Linked DNA regions of Homo sapiens: regions 1 and 2 are each linked to region 3. The links come from fine-mapping of genetic effects on gene expression. A gene starts in region 3. Each other region holds a variant in brackets. All regions are shown on one strand. Distances are from middle to middle. Region 1 overlaps TRDMT1 (tRNA aspartic acid methyltransferase 1). Region 2 overlaps RSU1 (Ras suppressor protein 1). Region 3 holds the start of CUBN (cubilin).

Region 1 (8,698 bases), 39 kb after region 3:
AGACCTTTGACAAAACTCAACAACCCTTCATGCTAAAAACTCTCAATAAATTAGGTATTGATGGGACATATCTCAAAATAATAAGAGCTATCTATGACAAACCCACAGCCAATATCATACCGAATGGGCAAAAACTGGAAGCATTCCCTTTGAAAACTGGCACAAGACAGGGATGCCCTCTCTCATCACTTCTATTCAACATAGTGTTGGAAGTTCTGGCCAGGGCAATCAGGCAGGAGAAAGAAATAAAGGGCATTCAGTTAGGAAAAGAGGAAGTCAAATTGTCCCTGTTTGCAGATGACATGATTGTATATCTAGAAAAACCCATCATCTCGGCCCAAAATCTCCTTAAGCTGACAAGCAACTTCAGCAAAGTCTCAGGATACAAAATCAATGTGCAAAAATCACAAGCATTCTTATACACCAATAAAAGACAAACAGAGAGCCAAATCATGAGTGAACTCCCATTCACAATTGCTTCAAAGAGAATAAAATACCTAGGAATCCAACTTACAAGGGATGTGAAGGACCTCTTCAAGAAGATCTACCAATCACTGCTCAATGACATAAAAGAGGATACAAACAAATGGAAGAACATTCCATGCTCAGGGATAGGAAGAATCAATATTGTGAAAATGGCCACATTGCCCAAGGTAATTTATAGATTCAATGCCATCCCCATCAAGCTACCAATGATTTTCTTCACAGAATTGGAAAAAACCAATTTAAAGTTCATATGGAACCAAAAAAGAGCCCACATTGCCAAGTCAATCCTAAGCCAAAAGAACGAAGCTGGAGGCATCACGCTACCTGACTTGAAACTATACTACAAGGCTACAGTAACCAAAACAGCATGGTACTGGTACCAAAACAGAGATATAGATCAATGGAACAGAACAGAGCCCTCAGAAATAATGCCACTTATCTACAACTATCTGATCTTTGACAAACCTGACAAAAACAAGAAATGGGGAAAGGATTCCCTATTTAATAAATGGTGCTGGCAAAACTGGCTAGCCATATGTAGAAAGCTGAAACTGGATCCCTTCCTTACACCTTATACTAAAATTAATTCAAGATGGATTAAAGACTTAAATGTTAGACCTAAAACCATAAAACCCTAGAAGAAAACCTAGGCAATACCATTCAGGACATAGGCATGGGCAAGGACTTTATGTCTAAAACACCAAAAGCAATGGCAACAAAAGCCAAAATTGACAAATGGGATCTAATTAAACTAAAGAGCTTCTGCACAGCAAAAGAAACTACCATCAGAATGAACAGGCAACCTACAGAATGGGAGAAAATTTTTGCAATCTACTCATCTGACAAAGGGCTAATATCCAGAATCTACAATGAACTCAAAACAAATTTACAAGAAAAAAACAAAAAACCCCATCAAAAAGTGAGCAAAGGATATGAACAGACACTTCTCAAAAGAAGACATTTATGCAGCCAAAAGACACATGAAAAAATGCTCATCATCACTGGCCATCAGAGAAATGCAAATCAAAACTACAATGAGATACCATCTCACACCAGTTAGAATGGCAATCATTAAAAACTCAGGAAACAACAGGTGCTGGAGAGGATGTGGAGAAATAGGAACACTTTTACACTGTTGGTGGGACTGTAAACTAGTTCAACCATTGTGGAAGTCAGTGTGGGGATTCCTCAGGGATCTAGAACTAGAAATACCATTTGACCCTGCCATCCCATTACTGGGTATATACCCAAAGGATTATAAATCGTGCTGCTATAAAGACACATGCACACGTATGTTTATTGTGGCACTATTCACAATAGCAAAGACTTGGAACCAACCCAAGTGTCCAACAATGATAGACTAGATTAAGAAAATGTGGCACATATACACCATGGAATACTATGCAGCCATAAAAAGGATGAGTTCATGTCCTTTGTAGGGACATGGATGAAGCTGGAAACCATCATTCTCAGCAAACTATCACAAGGACAAAAAACCAAACACCGCAAGTTCTCACTCATAGGTGGGAATTGAACAATCAGAACACATGGACACAGGACGGGGAACATCACACACCGGGGCCTGTTGTGGGGTGGGGGGAGGGAGGAGGGATAGCATTAGGAGATATACCTAATGTAAATGATGAGTTAATGGGTGCAGCACACCAACATGGCACACGTATACATATGTAACAAACATGCACGTTGTGCACATGTACCCTAAAACTTAAAGTATAATAATAAAAAAAAAGCATGCTATTTATCTTCAGAGTCTTAAATAAGTTAGCTGGCATCATTGGTCAGTTTCCTCATACCTGATGGCAGGACCAAAACCATCAGTGGATCTGAGGTTCAGCTGTGGGATTAGACTGGATGTGAACAGACTTCTCAGAAATCTTCAGTTCTTATTTGTCCTTTCCTGTCAGACTTTCACATGAGGACTACAGAATCAGTTACTCCTGCCATCAGCAGCTGGAGCTGTGCTAAGACAAGGGGGAGGTGGGAGTAGGAAAGCTACGGGGCCCTCTGCAGTATTACCTGAGGCTTCACAGAGCTGGAGCTGCATTCCGCTGTGTATATCCTGCTCACTGTACTCCACAGGCCACACTCTTGCACGTGCCTAGAGCCACCCTGAGATGGAATGGCCTCTGCCTGCTCTGATATACTCCTAATCTACCTCCAGACACAGTTCAGACATCACCTCTGAAAGAATTCCCTTCTCTTGGTATGCAGCAAGCCCTTTTCTCCTCTGTACTCCTGTGACACTTTCAGCATTCTTTTATTATATAGCTTATAAGATAATTTAAGATAACATTATAAGATAATTATTTGTCAGCCATTCCCATTAGACTATGAGCTCCCAAAGGACAGGAACTACAGCATCAAAAATAATGCCTGGCTTGTAGGTGAACCACAAATCCTTGGGAAATTCATTTCCTAGAGAATTGTTTAAATAAATCCAAATGTAGATGGAAATTTGGCATTAGAATATTCATTCACTGAATTAGACTGGTTATTACATATGATATTCTACTTAAAATCATGGAATATATAAAATGATTAACAAATCTTGGCTCTGACATTCTTTAATTGTATATCCTTGAGAAAGTTAACCTTTCTATGCCCCAGTTTCTCATCTGTAAAATCATTGTAACAGCAATGGCTACCCCATAAGCTTGTTAAATTAAATGACATCCTCTGCATAAGACACAGACACTTAGAGGATTACTACTGCTATTTTCATTTAAAATAATCCAAAATACTCTTATTAAAAATATCTAAATGAAAATCAATTAGTCAAGATTTGGTCGAAGATATAATTTCCTGAAACATATAGCCAAATATATATATACACACATATATATAATTTTTTAAATGAAGAGTTTATAACGTTGCTATGAAAAGTCAGAATTATTCAATGTACATATGAATTTTAAGAAATGTAAAGTTCACAAGTGCATGCTTAACTAGCTTTTAAATTGTACAATTAAGCAATTTAGGACTTGAATATTTATTGTGGAAATTCACTTTGCTTAATCAGTATTAGAAAGATATTCTTGAATGCTCATTAGTTTAAATGAATTAAGGTACTTTGGGCTGGAAATAAACATTGTGTCTTAGGTAAGTATAAAAGAGGTATCCTACAGTCTTGCATATCTACTTTTGACCAAATTAATTTGCTCATCTGGTAGCAACTGCTATTTCCTTTGTGATTAATGCTTAATTATAAATATGAATGGAGGCTGGGCATGGTGGCTCCGTGTATAATCCCAGCACTTTGGGAGGTCGAGGTGGGAGGATAGCTTGAGCCCAGGGCTTTTAGGCCAGCCGTGGCAACATAGTGAGACGCCATCTCTACCAAAAATTTAAAAATTAGCTGGGCATGGAAGTACATACCTTTAGTCCCAGCTACTCAGGAGGCTGAGGCAGGAGGATTGCTTGAACCTGGGAGATTGAGGCTGCAGGGAGCTGTGATCATGCCACTGCACTGCAGCCTGGGTGACAGAGCAAGACCCTGTCCCAATAATTATTATTATTTAAAAATAAATAAATACATACATAAGTAGATAGAAGGATTTATGAAAAAATTTCCGAACTATGAAATGCAGCTAATAAACTTCAGAGTGTCCATGTTTGACACTACAGTATGATCTGATTTAGTAAGTCCTTCAAAAGCACTTTCTCTACACTTGATATGGTTTGGCTGTGTCCCCATCCAAATCTCATCTTGAATTTCCACGTGTTGTGGGACGGACCCGGTGGGAGGTAACGGAATCATGGGGGCAGGTCTCTGCTGTGCTGTTCTTGTGACAGTGAATAAGTCTCATGAGATCAGATGGTTCTATAAAGGGCAGTTTCCCTGCACAACATCTCTCTCTTTACCTGCTGCCCGTGACTTGTTCCTCCTTGCCTTCCGCCATGATTGTGAGGTTTCCCTAGCCACATGGAACTGTAAGTCTAGTAAACCTCTTTCTTTTGTAAATTGCCCAGTCTCAGGTATGTCTTTATCAGCAGCATGAAAATGGACCAATACAACACTGA[A/C]ATATTTATGACACATACCTTGTGAATGGCTGGCAGGGAGGGCTCATTAAAATCATATCAAAAGATAATCTGTCAAACTCTTCGAGTGTAATGCCCTGAGGAATGAACATTTAGGGGGAAAAAAGAACATAAAAACATGGATAGAATGGGGAAGAGGGAAAATACTAACTATAATTAAATATATCAGAAACTGAAACAGTTTATAATACAATGCTTGTCAAATCAACTTTGGTTAACTAACTTCTCAAAGCAATACTGTGAAGGAAGTGGGGCAGTAAACTGAAGCTACAAGAAATTAAGTGACTTCCCCCAAGGTCCCAGCACCAGCCCAGAGCTGGAACAGTTGTTTCCTGGATCCTAAGCACATCTGGCCTGTATCACACCTCAAGTGTAACACTGCTGTTTTCTAGAGTAAAACGTGGAGAACCTTATTTTATAATTGATAACGTTCATGGAGATGGGGTCTAGGAAATTTTTAAATACCTACCTGTCAATAATGTTCTTTATTTAGCAAATGTGATATGCAGACCAGTCACCATCCCTTTCATATACATCTGTTAATATATTATCAAATGGAAAAGGGCCTCATTCTCAGATATCCACAATTATTTTGTTTTGCAGTTGTGTGCAATGAACTTCAAATGACTGTTGACAAGATGCATCAAAAGAATTCCTAATGGGCTAAGTAGCTGAAAACTGTGCTGTGTTGCTCCTTTTCTATATCTCAGAAGACAAACACAGGGAAGCACACGTCAGGGGTTTGCCAACTCACATTAAGCACTCTCAGTGCACATCTTTAGCTAGAAACTTAAAGAAATGAGCCCAGAATCAAAACCTTCCTAATTATAGCCCACTTCTAAGAAGTTCAAGCACATGAATAAAGCAGGAAAAGCTTTACTCTGAATTCTGTAAAGAGTGAGTTAACGTGGGAACATGTCAGTTGTCTCCATTGTATTAACAGTTTGAATGTGCTTGTCTATCAGTTTTTGATCATAGGATTTTAAATAATTAAAGATACATCTGTGAAAATGAAATCAAAATCAGATATTGAAAATTTCCTAAAGCACTTCTCGACTCCCCAGTGTTAAGGAAAGCAATCTGAAAATCCTACACTGAGCAGTCTGCCAGAACACACGGGGCAGGGTATTAGCACATCACATTCAAGTTCAACAGCCTGTACATACAGGGCCATTATGATAAGCAACTGGACGTGGAATGATAACAGCTAAATTCCTACAACTAAAGTAAAAAACAACAATCTCTCATAGCAATTATTCCAGGGGCATCCTATGTCTAGAATCGAAAGGAAGTAAACAGAGTCAATGTCTCTAATACAGCTAGCCACTAAAAAAATTACAGCTTTAACAGATTCTTGAAAATAGTGATTTTTTTAATAGTGTAGGCCAACTGATAAGGCAGTTAGGCAAAAATTCATCACTAAATTGAACCCTTCACAACTTATTTAACCTGGTATTCTAGGTCAATGAAAGTGTATTTGGATTAAATAAAGTAGTCATGGAAATACACAGGTTATTTTTAATGACTAAATATTTTAAAGCCAAAGGAAATTGATTTTTTACCTTATATGACTATACAAGTTAAGGAAAATACTTTTGCTTTCAGATAATATTAGATCAAGTCAGTGGGCTAACACTGTTCATCCTGTATTGACTGGCAGGTGTATTTGTCCCTCTGCCTGCCTTATTGCCTATTTTCTCAGAAAGTTTTCTGGCTATTCTTAAACTGAATTTTCATTTGAACTTTAGGAAGAACTTGGTAGATTAGAAAACAACAACTTTTGACTATTTTATTGAAGTTATAGTGAAACAGAGCCAATATTTTTACAATATTCAGCCATCCTATCCAAGACCACAGTACGCTTTCATCATTTTTCAAATCTCTTTAACTCCCATGTGAGTTATATAGATTTCTTGTTATACAGATTCTTGTGTTGTTACTAAAAATAGGAACTTTCTCCTATTATGTCTTCTAGTAGACATATTGTATATTGTATGCTGTAGGTTATCATATTTTTGTAGCCAGCGTCCTTATTAAAGCACTAATTGTTCCTCATATATTATTTTTGCTTAACTTGTTGGTATTTTCCGGCATACTCAATCACATTTTTAAATATTTCTATTTATATGATATTTCTCTGTGTAAGTACATTAGCTAACAGATCCACAACTATATCAAGTCATAGTGCTAATGGTGGACATCCTTGTCTTTTTATTATTTTAATGAGAATACTTTTAAAGTTTCACCATTTGGTATGTTACTGGATTTAGATGTGTGTGTGTGTGTGTGTGTGTGTGTGTGTAGTCAAGATCTCAGGCAACCAGGCCAGCAGTCAGGCTCTTGGAACATTTGCATTCTTAGTCCCAGAGCCTTCATTCCGAGGTGTCCTTATCTGAGGCCTTGAGCAGAACTTCTCTGCCAAGGCCTCCTTGTGTGGGGAGGTGTGGGAAACCCTGAAGACACTGATGACACCTGAAGAGTGTGCCATTCTGACTCAGTCCCCAGCACTTTTCCACTGCTAGCCCTCCCTGCTTTCCCTTCCCTTAAGGCCAAGGATTCCCTCAACAGTGAGAGGGCCCTCACGTATACACTGATCCATGGGTAAATGGAACCGAGAGAGTGGCATTGTCTCTGCTTTTAGATTCTTGCCAGTAACACCACTGTAAGTGAGTGAAGGCTTAACTCTTTTGTTTTTGGCTTGTGGCCTTAATCAGCTACTTTAACGCTCTTGACAGCTGAGCTTTCTCTTTCCCAGCTCTGCTGAGACCCTGACAACAACACTGAATAATGTCCTAAAAAATTGATAGTTTCATTTATCTGCAAAGACATATTTTTTGTGTCTCACTGCCTCTTCCCACTCCGATTACATTATTATTTCTACACTGCAAAGCTTTACAACATTTTCAGCTATTTTCTAACCATAGTTTTCCTCCTAACACGGCAGCTTCATTCCTGGGTTTTCTACTTTGATTCATCTCTTGCTCAGCTAGATTAAGTGATGCAGTCATCTGTTCCAGAAGGGCTCATGGATGTTATATTGTAAATTTCATTCTAGAAAAATTTTTATCTATTTTTATTAAGAGTTTTTGTTCCACTGGAGTCATTCTCCTCTTCAGAGGCATTAATGATATTTATCACGGATCACTCTGTCTTCGGTAGCTATCATTTACTCTACAGTATGTAACTGGAGAAAGTGAAGAAAGAGAACAGAGATTATTTTTGAAGCAATAATGGTCAAACCCCCCAAATTTGATGAAAATTATAAATAAGAAAAGCACCACAAGGTCCAAGCACTACAAATAAAGAAAAACATACAGAGCACATCAAAATAAAACTTTTCAAAACACGTGATAAAGATAAAATCTTAAATGTAGACAAAGAAAGACACAATATATTAAGAGGAATGAAAGCAGAAATTATTACAGACCTTAAGTCAGAAATTAAGAAACCCAGATAACACTGGAAAGTATTAAAAGAAAACAAACAGATTTTTACAAAAATATCTTTCAAAATGAATGCAATCAAAGATTCAGTGGGCCAGGCACAGTGGCTCATGCCTGTAATCCCAGCACTTTGAGAGGCTGATATGGGAGGACCAGTTGAGCCCAAGAGTTTGAGACCAGCCTGGGCAACATAGTGAGACCCTGCCTCTCCAAAAAAGAAAAAAAAATGAGTAAAAATTATATTTCACAGTGAAGACAAAATAAAACACTTTTTTACTCAAAAGCACCAAGGTAATTTGTCCCTTTCCACATATAACCAACAAGAGACACTAAAGAAGGTTTTTCAGGAAGAAGAAAAATTATATCACATGCAAACTTTGATCTAAAACACAAGGATAAAAAGTGCTGAAAATTGTAGGTATATAGATAAATATAAAAGACTTTGTGCTTTTTAAAAGTTCTTTAATAGATATTTGACTATTTAATCCAAAAAACAGTAACAATGTATGTTGGTGCCTATAACATTCGTAGCAGTAAAGTGCAAGACAAAATATCAAAATAGACCAGTAGGGGAAATTGGAGGAATACTGTTAAAATTTAAACATAAAGTGGTATAATGTTATTTGAAGGCGGGCTTCCACAAGTAAAAGATGCATCTTGTAAACCCTAGAGAATCCAACAGGAAAATAAAACAAAGATAGATATAGATA
Region 2 (8,698 bases), 420 kb before region 3:
ATTCATCTGTTGATGTACACGTGTGCTGCATTCACATTTTAGCTACTGTGAACAATGCTGCTATAAATATGGCTGTACACATATCTTTTTGAGACCATTTTCAATTATTTCGGGAATATACTCAGAAGTGAAACTGCTGGGTCGTATGGTAGTTTTAATTTTTCGAGAAACTGTCATACAATTTTCCATTTCCACCAACAGTGCTCAAGGGTTCCCAACCTCATCTTTTTAATACTTGTAAATTTTTTATAGTAACCACCCTAATGGATATGAAATTATATAGCATTGTAGTTTTCACTTGCACTTCCGTAATGACTAGAGATGTTGAACATTTTTTCATGTGCTTATTGGCCATTTATGTACCTTCCTTGGGAAAAAGTTATTCAAGTCCCTTGCCATTTTTCAACTGGGTTGTGTTTTTTATTGTTGCTGCTGTTGAGTTTTAGTTCTCTATATACTCTAAATTTTAATCCTTTATCAGATATACAATTTACAAATATTTTCTCTCATTCCGTGGGTGGTCTTTTTAGAAAAAATAATTTTAGAAAATTTTAGAAAAAATTTTAATTGACACAGTGGAATTATACATACTTATGGGGGTACAATTTGATGTTTTGATACCTATCTATGCTATATAATTATCCAATCTGGGTGGCTAGTATTCATCACCTCATGCACGTATTTCTTTGTGGTGGGAACATTTGAAAGCCTCTCTTCTAGCTGTTTCCTAATATACAATATTTCACTGTTAATTACAGTCAGTCTACTGTGTAACAGAACATCAAAATTTATTCCTACTGTCTAAATGTAACTATGTACCCACTGGCCAACATCTCTGCACCCTTCCATCTCTTCCCGCCCCTCCCAGTCTCTGGTAACCACTATTCTACTTCCTGTTTCAAGGATACCAACTCTGTTTTTGTTGTTGTTAAGAAAAAAAGATCTCATATGAGTGGGATCATGTGTTATGTGTCTTTCTGTGTCTGGATTATTTCACAAAACATGACTTCTTTCAGGTTCATCCAATTGTGGCAAATGAGAAGATTTCATACTTTCATGGCTGAATAATATTCCATTATGTATATATACATTTTCTGTATTCATTCTTGCATTAATGGGCACTTAGGTTGATTACGTATCTTAGTTATTGTAAACAGTGCTGCAATAAACATGGGAGTTGAAGTTTTCTCTTCAACATAGTAATTTCTTTTGGATATATACCTAGTAATGGAATGGCTGGATTGTATGGTAGTCCTATTTTTAATTTTTTGAAGGATCTCCATACTCTTTTCCATAATGGTTAATTTACAATCCCACCAACAATGTGTTTCCCTTTCTCCACATCCTTGCCAACCCTTATTTTCTCTTTTTAACAATAGCCATGCTAACTGGAGTGAGGTGGTATTTTATCGTGGTTCTGATTTGCACTTTCTTGATGATTACTGATGTTGAGCATTTTTTCATATACATGTTGGCCATCTGTATGTCTGCTTTGGACACATGTCTATTAAGGTAGTTTGCCCATTTTCTTAATCAGGTTTTTTTTTTTTTTGCTGTTATGATCCTTTTATGTTCTGAATATTAACCTCTTGCCAGATACATACTTTGTAAATATTTACTCTCATTCTTTAGGTGCCTCTTCACTCCGTCAATAGCTTCCTTTGCTGTGCAAAAGCTTTATAATTTGATGTAATCTTGTTTGTCTAGTTTTGCTTTTGTTGCCTGCTGCTTTTGAAGTCTTGTTTAAAAAACCCTTCTCCAGGTCAATGCTGTGAAAAGTTTCCTCTCTGTTTTCTTCCAGTAGTTGCATAGTTTTGGGTTTTACATTTACATTTTAATCTGTTTTGATTTTTCTTTTTTTTGGTAAGAGGTAGAGGTCTAGACTCATTCTTTTGCATGTTGATATCCAATTTTCCCAGCACCATTTACTAAAGAGATTTGTCTTTTCCTTAATGTGTGTTCTTGCCACCATTATGAAAAATTAGTTGGCTATAGGTATGTAAATTTATTTGTCGGCTCTCTATTCTGTTCCACTGGTTTATGCGTCTGTTTTTAAAGCCAGTAACATGTTTAGGTTCCCATAACTTTGTAGTAGCAGTGACCCTTGAACAACTTTTGACTTCCCCCAAAAAACTATTAATAGCCTACTATTGATCAGAAACCTTACGGATAACATAGTCAATTAACATATTTTGTCTGTTACATACATTATATACTATATTCTTACAATAAAGCTAGAGAAAATGTCATTAAGAAAAACATAAGGAAGAGTAAATATATTTATTATTTATTAAGTGGATGTGGAGTATTATAAAGGTCTTCATCCTCATTGTCTTCCTGGTGAGTAGGCTTCCTGTTGAGGGATTTGTCTTGCTGTTTCAGGGGTGGCAGAAGCAGAAGAAAATCTACATAAAAGTGAGCCTGCACAGTTTAAATCTAAGTTCTTTAGGAGTCAACTGTACATTTTGAACTTGGTTGGTGTGATACCTGCAGGTTTTTCTTTTTGCTCAGGGTTGCTTTGGCTATTTGGGTCCTTTTGTGGTTCCATATGAATTTTAGGATTTTTTTTTCTATCTGTGTAAAGAATGTCATTAGTATTTTGATAGGAATTGCATCAAATCTGTAGATTATTTTAGGTAATATGGCCATCTTAACTATATTAATTCTTCCAAACCATGAAGACAAAGTAGCTTGCCATTTATTTGTGTCCTCTTCAATTTCTTTTGTTAAAGTTTTAGAGTTTCAATATAGAGAGCTTTCAATTTGGTTTTGTTTCTATTATCTTTTTTTTTTTAAGCTATCGTAAATGGAGCTGTTTTCTTGATTTCTTTTTCAGATAGTTAATGAACCAATATTAATAATGGTTAATATATAGAAAGACTACTGATTCTTGTATGCTGATTTTGTATCCCATAACTACTGAATTCATTTATTAGTTCTACCAGTTCTTTAGTAGAGTCCTTTGGTTTTTTTTTTTTAATTATACTTTAAGTTTTAGGGTACATGTGCACAATGTGCAGGTTACATATGTATACATGTGCCATGCTGGTGTGTTACACCCATTAACTCGTCATTTAGCATTAGATGTATCTCCTAATGCTATCCCTCCCCCCTTCCCCCACCCCACAACAGGCCCCAGAGTGTGATGTTCCCCTTCCCGTGTCCATGTGTTCTCATTGTTCAATTCCCATCTATGAGTGAGAACATGAGGTGTTTGGTTTTTTGTCCTTGCGATAGTTTACTGAGAATGATGATTTCCAATTTCATCCATGTACCTACAAAGGACATGAACTCATCATTTTTTATGGCTGCATACTATTCCATGGTGTATATGTGCCACATTTTCTTAATCCAGTCTATCATTGTTGGACATTTCGGTTGGTTCCAAGTCTTTGCTATTGTGAATAGTGCCGCAATAAACATACGTGTGCATGTGTCTTTATAGCAGCATGATTTATAGTCCTTTGGGTATATACCCAGCAATGGGATGGCTGGGTCAAATGGTATTTCTAGTTCTAGATCCCTGAGGAATCCCCACACTGACTTCCACAAT[A/G]GTTGAACTAGTTTACAGTCCCACCAACAGTATAAAAGTGTTCCTATTTTTCCACATCCTCTCCAGCACCTGTTGTTTCCTGACTTTTTAACGATTGCCATTCTAACTGGTGTGAGATGGTATCTCATTGTGGTTTTGATTTGCATTTCTCTGATGGCCAGTGATGATGAGCATTTTTTCATGTGTCTTTTGGCTGCATAAATGTCTTCTTTTGAGAAGTGTCTGTTCATATCCTTTGCCCACTTTTTGATGGGGTTGTTTTTTTCTTGTAAATTTGTTTGAGTTCATTGTAGATTCTGGATATTAGCCCTTTGTCAGATGAGAAGGTTGCCAAAATTTTCTCCCATTCGGTTTTCTATATGTAAGATCATGTCTGCAAACAGGACAATCTGACTTCCTCTTTTCCAATTTGGATGCCTTTTATATCTTTCTCTTCCCTAATGGCTTAGGCTAGGACTTCCAGTACTATGTTGAACAGAAGTAGCAGAAGTTGGCATCCTTGTCTTGTTCCATATATTAAAAGAAAGCTTTTCCTCATTCAGTATGATGTCAGCTGTGGGTTTTTCATACATGACATTTACTGTGTTAAGGTACATACCTTCCATAACTAATTTGTTGAGTTTTTATGAAAGAATGTTGAAGGATGTCAAATGCTTTTTCTGCATCTACTGAAATGATCATATTGTTTTTGTCTCTTTTTGTTAATGTGATGTATTACACTTATTGACTTGCATACGTTAAACTACCCTTGCAACACTGGTATGAGTAATACTTGATCACAGTGAATGATCTTTTTAATGTGCTGCTGGATTCAGTTTGTTAATATCTTATTAAGAATTTCTGCATCTATGTTCACATTACAGATACTTACCTGTAGTTTTGCTGTTGTTGTTGTATCGTTGTCTGGTTTCAGGATCAGGGTAATGCTGGCCTCATAAAATTTTACAAATACTCCCCACTTATCAATTTTCTGGAATAGTTTGAGGAGAACTGTTATTAGTTCTTCTTCAAATGTTTTGTAGAATTCAGTAGTGAAGCCATCAGGTCCTAAGCTTTTCTTTGATGAAACATTTTTTTTAAATTTTTTTATTTTTTATTATACTTTAAGTTCTGGGATATATGTGCAGAAAGTGCAGGTTTGTTACATAGGTATACATGTGTCATGGTGGTTTGCTGAACCCATCAACCCATCATCTACATTAGGAATTTCTCCAATGCTATCCCTCCTCTTACCCCCTACCCGCCGACAGGTCCCAGTGTGTAATGCTCCCCTCCGTGTGTCCATGTGTTCTCATTGTTCAACTCCCACTTATCAGTGAGAACATGCAATGTTTGATTTTCTGTTCCTGTGTTAGTTTGCTGAAAATGATGGTTTCCAGCTTCATCCATGTTCCTGCAAAGGACATAAAGTCTTTCTTTTTTATGGCTGCACAGTATTCCACATGGTGTATATGTGCCACATTTTCTCTATCCAGGAAAGACTTTTTATAACTAATTGTCTCACTAGTTATTAGTCTGTTCAGATCTTTAATTTCTTTATAATTGAATCTCAGTAGTTTGTATATGTCCAAGAACTTATCTATTTCTTCCATATTATCAAATTTGTTGGCATATAGCAGCTCATAATATTCTCTATAATTTTCTGTATTTCTGTAGTATCAGTTGTAACATCTCCTTTTCCATCTCTGATTTTACTTGAGTCTTGTTTTTTTTAGTCTAGCTTAAAGTTTGTTGATTTTGCTTATCTTTTCAAAAAAACCAACTCTTCGTTTTCTTGATCTTTTGAATGTTAATTTGTCTTTATTTCTTCTCTGAGCCTTATTCTACCTTTCCTTCTATCAATTTTGGGTTCAGTTTGTTCTTGTTTTTCTAGTTCCTTGTGGTACGTCATTAGGTTGTTCATTAAAAATCTCTCTTCTTTTCTAATGTAGCTGTGTATTGCTATAAAATTCCCTGTTAGAACTGCTCTCTCGCTGTGTCTCACAGGTTTTGGTAAGATGTGTTTGCATTCTTGTTTGTCTCAAAGCAATTTTTCATTTCTCTGTTAATTTAATTGACCCACTGGTTGTTGAGGGCCATGTTGTTTAATTTCCACGTATTTCAAAGTATCCAAAGTTGCTCATGTTGTTGTTTTCTAGTTTCATACCACTGTGGTTAGAAAAGATACTTGATAGGATCTCTATCTCAAATCTGTTAAGATTTGTTTTGTGGCCTAGCATGTGCTCTATCCTGGAGAATGTTTCATGTGTAATTGAGAAGAATTTGTATTCTGCAGCTGTTAAAATGTTCTGTAAATATCTGCTAGGTGCATTAGGTCTTTGATGTAGTTTTAGTCTGATATTTCTTTGCCAAACTTCCCTTTTATAATTGTATTGCAGTTGATCTGTACCTTTATGTGCAATCATGTTTGTTTTGTACATCTGTATGTTTCAGGGTTGAGTGCATATGTATTTGTTACAATATTCTCTTATTGAATTTATCCTTTAATCATGACATAATGACCTTTTTTCTTTTTCCAGTTTTTGACTTAAAATCTGTCTTATCTGATACAATTATAGCTACTCCTGCTCACTTTTGGTTTCTGTTTGTATGGAATATGTTTTTCCATTCCTTCACTTTCAGTTTATGTTTGTCTTTAATGATGATGTGAGCCTCTTGTAGCCAGCAGATAGTTGGGTCTTATTTTTAAAACCTGTTCGACCACTCTGTGTTTTTAAATTTGAGACTTTAATCCATTTATATTCAAGGTCATATCAATAAAAATTTATTCCTGCCATATTGTTGTTTTCTGCTTGTTTTGTAGATCCTTTTCCCCTTTCTTTTACTCATGTTATTTTCCTTCGCGGTTTGGTGGTTTTCTGTGCTGCGAAGTTTTGTTTTCTTTCTCTTTACTGTTTATTATTCTGTCGTAATTTCTTTCTTTGTGGTTACCATGGGGCTAACATAAGAGTCTTGTAGTTACAATAGACTACATCAACCTGATAGCAATTTAAATCTGGTTGCATGAAAATATTCTAGACTTAACCCCATACACAATTAATATTTTTGTTGCCTTAATCTACTTATTTATTATATATTTGTAGCCACTAAGTGTGGTTGTTGTTGTTTTTGACCTTTTTGACTTCTAAGTCTTCATACTAGAGGATTGAGAGATTTACATAGGACCATTAAATCACTAGAGTATTTTATGAATTTACCTCTACTAGTGAGTTTTACACCTTCACATGTTTTCATGATAATTATTGTCCTTTCTTTTCCAGTGGTAGCACTCCCTTAAGCATTCCTTATAAGGCCAACCTACTGGTCACAAATTCTCTCAGCCTTTGCTTGTCTGAAAAGGTCTTATTTCTCCTTCATTTCTGAAGGATAACTTTGTTGGATATAATATTCTTGGCTGACAGTTCCTCCTCCCCACAAGCCCCCCTTCTTTCAGCACTTTGAATATATCATCCCATTCTCTTCTAACCTGCAAGGTTTCTGCTGAGAAATCTACTAGTAGTCTAATGGACATTCCCTTGTGTGTGATGTGACACTGTTTTCTTGTGGCTTTTAAAATTCTGTCTTTAACTTTTGAGAGTATGATTATAATGTGCCTCAGAGAGGACTGAATCTAACTGGGGACCTCTGAACTTGCTGAATTCCTATGTCCGTATTTCTGCCAAGACTAGGGAAGTTTTCATCTATTATTTCATTACATAGGTTTTCTGTGTCTTTCTCCAACTCTTCTCCCTACGAAGTTCCTATAATGCACACATTTGTTCATTTAATGGTATCGCATGAGTCCCACAGGCTTTCTTCAATTAAAATTCTTATTTTTTTTTCCCTCTGACTGGGATAATTCAAGAGGCCTGTCTTCAAGTTCAGAAATTACTCTGCCTGATCTAGTCTGTTGTTGAAGCTTTCACTTGCACTTTTTATTTCATTCATAATTCCTCAGCTCCAAGATTTCTGTTTGGTTCTTTATGACACTTATCTTTGTTGCATTTCTCATTCGGATGATGAATTGTTTTCCTGATCTCACTGAATTATTTGCTGTATTCTCTTGTATCTCCATGAGTTTCCTTAAGATTATCTTATTTTCAGGCATTTCATAAATGTCCTTTTCTTTGGGGTCTTTTACTAAAGACTTATTGTATTCCTTTGCAGGTATCACATTTCCTTGCTTTTTCACATTGCTTGTGTCCCTATGCTGATATCTGAACATCTAGTGGAATAGTGACCCTTTCCAGGTTTATGAAGTAACTTTCATTAGGAGATAATTCTTCCTGTAGATAGGTCCCAAGGTGTCATTTGAGTGTGGTGAGTTAGCTTTAGTTCTGGGTGGACTCAGTAGCATGGTCTACATGTAGTTTTTTCAGCTGCAATCTTCATCAGCAATGTCTGCAATTGCCTCAATGGCCTATGCTGTAGGTATTTGTGGTGGTCGTAGTGTGTGGTTTTGCTGGGAGTAGGGGTGTTGGGCTGGCTGTTGGGCTGAATATGTATGGGTGTGGAGGGCGAAAAGGCTCTCCAACAGGCTTTTCAGGGAGGTGGGGCCACCACTAGTCTGGCTGTTGGGCTGAGCTTAGGTGCATATGGGTGTGGCTAGCTGAGCAGCTACGTGGCTGTCTCTTCAAGAGGATGGATGAAGAGTCTACTGGTCTGATGCTGTGCCAGCTGCACATAGGTGCAGCTGTGTCAGGTGGCCCTGTAGGAGTCTGTCTAGAGGAGCAGGTCCACCACTGGCCCAGCTCTTGGGCTGGATGCCAGTGTGAAATGGGGTTGGGCAGCCTTGCAGTTATTTGGGAGGGAGGGCTGCTACTGGACCAGCTGTCAGGCTAGACATAGAATAGCAGCATTCAGCTGCTCTTTGGGTGTCTGTATGCGGGAACGAGGCTGCCACAGGACCAACAGTTGGACCAGCTATGGATGCACCGCGCTTGGTGGGACAGGTGGCTATGGTGCAGGTACGTGCAGGAGAGGTAATTGGCTGACTGTTCAGTGACTTCAGCACCGTACAGATCTGCCTGTTCCCTGGGGGGTGGGGGGATGTGGTGTGTCACTTGGGTTTGAACACTGGGGTCTCAGTCATTCCATGTGACCTATGCTTTGGGTAGCTATGGTCATAGTGCTGCAGGTACCTGTGTGAATGTGGTATAAGGACAG
Region 3 (8,567 bases):
CCACAGCACTATTCTTTACTCATTTTCTTTCGCTTAACTACTCTCTTAAAAATGACAGCTGAGGGGTCAATGTATTATCTAAGTGGAGAAAAGGAATACACGAACTTGATCATCAAATGACAAAAAGGTTTGCAGCAGCAATCCTTGCCAGAATGGTGGGACCTGCCTCAATCTGCATGAGTCCTTTTTTTTGTATCTGTCCTTCACAGTGGGACAGATCAAACTTAAAAGTAGAGGAAAATGCTTGAAGCATGAGCAAAACAGATGAAGAATATTTTTGCAGAAATTCTTACACTGGAATCCCCAGATTTTTATGCAAAATTTTAAACATGAAGAGATTCTGTACATTTCTCTGCATAGAAGGTTACAGCTTCCATGAAAGTCTTTAAAAGGTCAGCTTCCTACAAAAGGGGTAAGAAGCCTAAGTTTACATAGATCAGTCTACAAGCATGTAGTACAGTTATACAATGTTTTCTGTAAGAAACTGTTCAAGTTTAATTACCAGCAAATGTCATTTTAAGAAAATTCGGACTATTTTGTGATACACCTAGACTTCCGAGCTTAGCGTCAGAGAGGATGCTTGCTTTCCGAGCCCCAGTCCCTGATGGGAGAATCAGCAAGTTGGGAGATCACTAGCTGACCAAGCACAGCACACACAGCTAAAGGGTGATGGTAAAGGATGTGGGCTGTGGGCTGCAAACTCAGGGTCAGAAGCCCTAACAGGCTCGGAGACCTCAGCCTTGTCATTTCATCTGTCTTAGACTCAGCTCTGCATCTGCATCCTGGGAAGCACATGCTGGGATGAGAATTAAATTATGGGAAAAAGCAAGTTTTTAATATTAATCATCCATTCACCTTCAAAATAAGAATAGCAGCTCTATTAATGATTCTAGTATGTTTTCTGTGAAAGATTTGGGTATGTAGTAGCATGAGACCTACCTGCTGCAAGCCTTGGAATTTTCTCTCAAGATCCACCAGCTGGCAATAGGGAAGAAAAAGCTTCAGTTAGCTGGTTCAAAGGCATTGCACATGTGATGTTATATCCTTGACATATTGTCCTAATGCCCTCTGCTAGGGACACACTTTGTTCATTCCTCCTTTTATTCCCTTTTTCCTCTTCATTCCTCTCCCCTCAGGATTTTCTTCCTTCCTATTCCCTCCTATCACATAGATTTCTGGGGTTTTTTTAAGTTTTTTTTTAAAGTACAACCCACTGATAAGTTGACCGATTGCTTCTCTGTAGGCAGTGACTATGGAAATGTTCATAAATGTCAGTGATGCATCCACTTCCCCAATAAGAAGATTGCTCTCAGAACTTCAGCAAGGCTTCTTTTCTTTCTTTCTTCCTTTCTTTCTTTCTCTCTCTCTCTTTCTTTCACTCTGTCTTTCTTTCTCTCTCTCTCTCTGTCTCTCTCTCTCTTTCTGTCTCTCTCTCTCTCTTTCTTTTTTTTTTTTTTTTTTTCTGGCAAGGTCCCACTCTGTTGCCTGGGCTGGAGCACAGTGGCATGATCATAGCTCACTGCAGTCTCAACCTCCCTGGCTCAAGCCATCCTCCCACTTCAGCCTCCCAAGTAGCTGTGAGTACAGGCTCATGCCACCATGCCCAGCTATTTTTTTTTTTTTTTTTTTTTTTGGTAGAGACGGAGTCTCACTATGTGGCCCAGGCTGGTCTCAAACTCCTAGGCTCAAGCGACCCTCCCTCTGTGGCCTCCCAAACTGCTGGGATTACAGGCAGTTTTTTATATTAATCATCCATTCACTTGCAGTGAGCCACTGCTCCCAGCCCAAGGCCTACTTCTGCAACAAGTGCTTGCACAGCATTTCCTGCCTTCTGTCCATCACTTCTACAGCCTCCATTACAGCTGTGTCATTTAACCAAACAGTGAGTAGTTACATGCTAAATCTCTAAAGAGCACACAAAGTTGGTATATCCCCTACAAAACGGTTACTTATACAATAGAACTAGGGAGAACTCATCGGTTCTTATGACGTAGATGTCAGACTTACCTTGGAATTAAGCTGATAGATTTGACTAGATATATTTTGAGGCAGACCAATTGCACTCCCTTTTAACTCTATAATATCTTCTTTGTTTTTCTGGATCTAATTTTAGAAAAAGAAGAAGAAATGAAGAGCACTAGTGAAAATATCATATTTATCTTTACAGTAACATAATTAAAAACTTGAGTAGTATTCTACTTTAAGCACTAAGATCTTGCCTATTATTATAAAAACCAAAACAACACCATGCGTAATAAACACTGGGCTAAAATAGCCACAGCATAATTCCACTTATCCTTTTCAGTAACAATAGATCAAGGTATTTTCCATTTGTATGTTTTCCTATAATACCAGTTTAGGGTGCTTATTAAGAAACCTGGCTTGGAAGCAGACTGTTTAGGTTTTAAGTCCTGGCTCAGCTATTTATTGCTGTCCTGGGCAAGTTACCTAACTGCTTCAGGGTTTCTTTACCTCTTGTAAAACTAGGGTGACAATAAAGGCCACCTCATAGGACAGCTGTGAAGGTCAAATGAGATAACATCCATACGGTGCTAAGCACAGTGGATGGCCCACAGTAAGCTCTGAATAATGCTGACTTCTAACATTATGACTGAAATATGCAGTGATTATTGGGAAATGAAAACACCCAGTAAGGCAGGAGAATAACTGGCCAATTCTGTTCTGTGGCAAAAGCAAACTGGTCACATGTCCACATATCCTTGGTCCCCTACTTCCTCGCATCCCCTGTGGAGGAGTTTCAGTTCCACCCTCCGTGCCTTCTCTGGACTAGGGTGCATTGTCTGGCACAATGAGCTTCTATCTTTTAGCATACTCCCTCTACCCACTATTAACCCCAGGCCATCGTCCTTTACAAGAACATGTCTGATGCCCAATTATGTTCTCTATGCTAAAGATTCAAGGTACACTAGGAAGGGGGAGGGAGGCTGAAGACAGGTTGATTAATGAATACAATATATAGTTAGATAGAAGAAATAAGACCTAGTGTTTGATAGACCAGTAGGGTGACTATAGTTAACATTAATCTATTGTACATTTCAAAATAACTAGAAGAGAACAATTCATATGTTCTTAGCATGAAGAAAAGGTAAATATTTAAGGTGATGGATATCCCAATTACCCTGATTTGAACTTTACACATTATAGGAATGTATCAAATTATGTATTAATAAAAAATAATAATTAAAAAAGATTCAAGGTACAGATTAATCTAGACTTGTTCAATTAAGTCACCGTATATGGATATACAAAATGACTTCAATATATTTCCAGTGTATTACCTGATGTAAACACTCACTGAGATCTTCATCATTTAATTTAATTTTTCCCAGGGATCCGGTTCTAAACTCAATGTTTTGAGCAGACCCCGTAAGAAACACCAAATTTCCTCTCTCTGTAGCCATTCGAGGCCTATATAATTCAAACGAGAGAATGCATCAGTAATTAGCAAGTACAATTTTTAAACCAAAATAACAAAGTTTCTTACTGAATAACTACAGGCCAAATACATCTTCACTTTTTGATCATCTCAACCCAACTGCCCCTGCTCATCTGCCACTTTTTTCTCTGCACATTTCTCAGAGATACCTCCTGGCAATTGCAAACAGATTATTTGCAAAATGACAGATAATAATTTGTGCATAGGAAAGTAATTTCATACCTCAGTCTAAATGTTTTTCCCTGTTTGCTTCTCAACATAATTTTCCTCAAGAAAAATTGCACCTTTGTTTATCTGGCTATTTGGGAAAACTGGTGAGGAATTAGCCTAGTCCCTGAGCAGGAATGACCCATGTGTTTACTTACTGTTGGAGATTGATGCTTCTTTTTTGTCTCTGCAGCTCAAGTTCTCCAGCTTCGCCATTTACTTCAGCAAATATTAATAAGGTAAGCAAACTCCAAAGAAAAGGTAAAGACATGTTCATCATCAACCTCCCAGGTTGGCAGGTAAGAGTGAGGCCACTCCAACCAACTGAGCATGGGATTTTGGAGAACAGCAAACCAGGCAGGTGTACTTTGAACCATGGAATATCCTGTAACTGTTGAGTTTTTTCTTCTTTGCCCTAGAAGGCTATGTTATTTTTTCTTCCAGAGGGATGTAAATGATCTTAGATCTTCAGTACTCTTCAACTTGTGAGAGGTCAAAATCTACCTTAAGTGATGCGCAACTTAATCATTATCTATTTGACCTTTGAAACAGTAACAAGCAGCTTTGAAAACATCCACTTAAACAATCTTTGCTTAAGAAGTAACTAGGTTTCAACAAAAGTAAACTGGTCATTATCTACACCTTTCTCTGTTCCCCTCCTTCCTCACCTCCCTTGCAGAGGAGTTCCACCTTTACCCAGCGCTAGGAAAACTAGATATCCACATGCAAAAGAAGTTGGAGGCTTACCTCATACCATATGCAAAAATTAACTCAAAAAAGTTCAAAGATCTAAATCTAAGAGCTAAAACTATAAAATTAACTCACAATGGTTCAAAAAATCTGAAACTATAACATAAAACTCAGAAGAATAGGACAAAAATTCATGACCTTGGATTTTGGATTTGGCAATGATTTCTTGAGTATGATACCAAAAGCATGGGCAAAAAAAGAAAAACACACAGACAACCAAAAGATATAAATTGGAATACATCAAAATTAAAAACGTTTGTGCATCAAAAAATACATCAACAGAGTGAAAAAGCAACTCCCAGAATGGAAGAAAATATTTGCAAATCATATATATATGAAAATGGGTTAATATCCAGAATGTACAAAGAATTTGTACTTTTTACTTTTTATCATCCCTGTGGGACCTATGGACGGCTGTGGAATCCATTCCCACTTTCCACACTGCGCTATACACCCTTCCAGCTGGATATATGGTTTGAGGACATGGAGCACTGATGTCCCCACTCACTCTGTGCTGGGACTACAGAAACCACTGAGAGTGATGAAAATATTCTACATTTCGATTGTAAAATCAACTATTGATGCACTCAGACTTTCCATGAGCACACAGACAAAACTGAATTTGAGGGAGAGCTGTAAAAATTTCACTTCTAAGAAAAATCTCTAGGTAATTACCATTGCATTGGTTAATACCCATGCAGGCTCTTTCAGGACAAGCCTGTTTGTGTTTTACTTATTTTGTGTCTTACTTATGTAGGCTCTTTGAGGAGAGGATCATTATGTACCATAGCTTATAATTCTTTACTTATGCCGGGCGCGGTGGCTCACGCCTGTAATCCCAGCACTTTGGGAGGCCGAGGCGGGCGGATCACGAGGTCAGGAGATCGAGAACATCCTGGCTAACGTGGTGAAACCCCGTCTCTACTACAAATACAAAAAATTAGCCGGGCTTAGTGGCGGGCGCCTGTAGTCCCAGCTACTCGGGAGGCTGAGGCAGGAGAATGGCGTGAACCCGGGAGGCGGAGCTTGCAGTGAGCTGAGATCATGCCACTGCACTCCAGCCTGGGGGACAGAGCGAGATGCCGTCTCAAAAACAAAACAAAACAAAAAAAAACTTTACTTGTGATACTCAAATAGTCACTGCTTTTAAAAATTTTTTTTAAACCTTCCCAATTTCTTCTATATGTCTCTTGTATCTGCTTCTTTCACTCAACATAATGCTTTTGTAATTCATCTGTGCTGTAGTGTATATCATTAATTGGTTCCCTTTTATTATTGAGTAGTATTTCATCATATGGCTATCCCACAGTTTGCTTCTCTACTCATCAGTTGATAAACACTTGAGTTATTTCCAGTTTGGGACTATTATAAATAAAGCTGTTATGAACATTTGTGAACAGGTCTTTGTGTCAACATAGGTATCTCATTACAATTTTAATTTATATTTCCCTAATGACCAAAGATGTTGGGCATCTTTTTATGTATATTTGCCATTTGTTTATCTTCTTCGGTGAACTGTCTGTTTAGATATTTTGCCTATTTTTTAAAATTTTGTTGTTTGTCTTTTATTGATTGTAAGAGCTCATATATTCTAGATACAAGAATTTTCAAATACGTATTTTGCAAATATTTTTCTGCCAACCTGTGGCAAGTCATTTTGCTTGCTTAAAAATATTTTTCAAGGACAACAATAAGACACAAAAGACTACTTCCTAAGTGATTCTATATCACATGATTCCATATGAAAATCTAAAAAAGCCAAAACTACACTGATTGATAGACAACAAATCAGAGGCCAGGGGTTGGGGAGGAGATTGATCGCAAGGAGGCATGAGGGAATATTTAAGGGTGATGAAAATGTTCTGTATCATGATTGTGATTGTGGTTGCATGACTGTATAAATTTGTCAAAACTCATAAAGCTGTATAGTTAAAATAGATAATCTTTGGCAGATGTAAATTACAGCACAATAAAACTGATTAAAATTATTTCTCTTCTATATTTGTAAATGTCTTCATATATCAGGATGATACAAAATATTAATTTGGTATTAAACTAAATGCTAAGAAAAGATATCCAATAGCCTTTACATCAATAGAGATGAAATTTATCATAATAAATTTGTTTATTTGAAAGCTTAACAACTTGGCATGGGGTGGAGGGAAAGTTTGACAATATGAAATTTTTGGCAAGTTTAGAATAGGATAAAATAGTCTGGGCTAGAATCTTCCAATCAAAAGGATAATTCAAACTCTCTGAGCTCTGGACGTAACTATTTTCATGATTATACTTTCTTAAAGACCACTGAACTCAGCTAATCTTTCCAGTGCAATAGAAAAGGCCTCCAGCATGATCTTAATAAGGACTTCCTCTTTGACAGGATTTTCCTGTTTTGTTAATTAATGTGTTTATTACTCAACAAAGTAAAGATAATCTCTCAGCTCCCAATCTAAGCATTCAATTGCTCATTGTCACCCATGTTAGAAAAAAAAAAGAAAGTAACCGTCGTTCAAGGTCTGACTGACTTTTAGTGATGAGTTAGGGAATTTTACATCCAGCTCATTCACTCAACTCTAGCTCAGATCAATAGGCAAGTCAGACTGTCTGCATATGTTGACTCTGTGAAAAGCAATATAAAAATCAATTGCTGTTTCCAAGGGATTGGCACTCATTCTGTTTACTTACTCTATTCAGAAATACTTCAGGAAAGATGAATTAAAGTAGTTTTAGAATCTATGACCTTCAGATCTATATGGTAGATAACCTCTCTTCTTCTCCTCTCCCAAGGTAAACATTCTATAGACCTGAAATTCTATCTTTCATTGACTAGTAAAACTCCTGTCTCTTCCCTAATCTAGAATGCATTCCCCTAATATTCTGCATGTGCCCTTTACATATTAGCCATCTATAAGATGATAGGAACACGAAATGTAGTAAATTGCAGATTCTTCCCTCTGAAGCCTCCAGTCTAGGGAAGACCACATGGTTGAAGGTTAAGAACACGGGCCTGAAGCTCATTTATGTGCGTTCAAAGTCTGACTCCATCACTTACTGACCATGGAACCTTGTTTTTTCATCAGCAGACAGATAATAACAGCACTGAAGTTATGTAAAATGTTTAGCACATTAGGTTACTGGCACAAAATAAGTGTTCATTAAATATAAGCTGTTATCAATATCATGTAAAGAAATATAATAATCCTCACCCTCCTGTATCCTCTCTTGGGTTTAGATTCCTTAAAAGAAAAAATGACAAAAAGAATTCACAGCTGTCTTTATAATCTTGGGTACAAGGAGAAGCAAGGGTGTCTGATCATTTCTCCTATAAAAGAGGATTTCAGAGCAGAGAGATGAATTGGGGACTTTGAGTGAGGAAGACGATTGCTGACCTGGAGTTAAAGGTGTGAGGCAAAGGTAACTGATGTCTAAGAACAAGGCAAGGTGACTCCAGGAAGCACAGAACAACTCCACATTGGTGGGTGGAGAGCAAGATTCCATTTAAATCCAAGAGTTTTGAAGAGCAGGCAATCCAAAAGAAACGGTATCATCCTTGAGTGGAACTGAGTAACCAGGGTGAGGAAGCTTTTATATGGGGTGCTAGCAATGGAGCCCTCGGACAGGGAGGATCTGCTCTGGGGGCTGCTCAGTGTTTGGAGGAGGGCACCTAGTTGGAGAGTTTACCTAAGGAACCCTTATGCACATTTGTACGCATTCATTAAAATAAAACCCTTAGGGCCCGGCGCGGTGGCTCAAACCTGTAATCCCAGCACTTTGGGAGGCCGAGGCGGGTGGATCACGAGGTCAGGAGATGGAGACCATCCTGGCTAACACGGTGAAACCCCGTCTGTACTAAAAATACAAAAAATCAGCTGGGCGTGGTGGTGGGCGCCTGTAGTACCAGCTACTCAGGAGGCTGAGGCAGGAGAATGGCTTGAACCCGGGAAGCGGAGCTTGCAGTGAGCTGAGATCATGCCACTGCCCTCCAGCCTGGGTGACAGAGTGAGACTCTGTCTCAAAAAATAAAAATAAAATAAAATAATAAAAAATAAATAAAACCCTTAGGTCAGAACACTGATAACATTAATGGCATGTTGTAGACTTTAAGTTTATAATGGTGTCTGCTGTACTGTTGATTTCCACTCATCAGCCTTTA

The links. PIP is the estimated chance that this variant, and not a neighbour inherited with it, causes the effect.
Region 1: its variant is fine-mapped to the expression of CUBN in blood mononuclear cells (TOPMed, PIP above 0.99).
Region 2: its variant is fine-mapped to the expression of CUBN in coronary artery (GTEx, PIP above 0.99).

What each region holds. Positions count from the first base shown.
Region 1 is chr10:17,164,296-17,172,993 of GRCh38, forward strand. TRDMT1 (tRNA aspartic acid methyltransferase 1) reads right to left here. Exons shown (of 11, transcript NM_004412.7): 3 at 4,546-4,622. Among named protein-coding and RNA genes, the nearest start is that of TRDMT1, 33 kb to the right of the region's middle. The variant A/C (reference allele first, on the strand shown) is at 4,528.
Region 2 is chr10:16,706,033-16,714,730 of GRCh38, forward strand. The region is part of intron 7 of RSU1 (Ras suppressor protein 1); the gene reads right to left. Among named protein-coding and RNA genes, the nearest start is that of RSU1, 110 kb to the right of the region's middle. The variant A/G (reference allele first, on the strand shown) is at 3,554.
Region 3 is chr10:17,125,822-17,134,388 of GRCh38, forward strand. It overlaps CUBN (cubilin), which reads right to left and starts at 3,990. Exons shown (of 67, transcript NM_001081.4): 1 at 3,823-3,990; 2 at 3,300-3,429; 3 at 2,008-2,103; 4 at 940-978. The coding sequence starts at 3,944.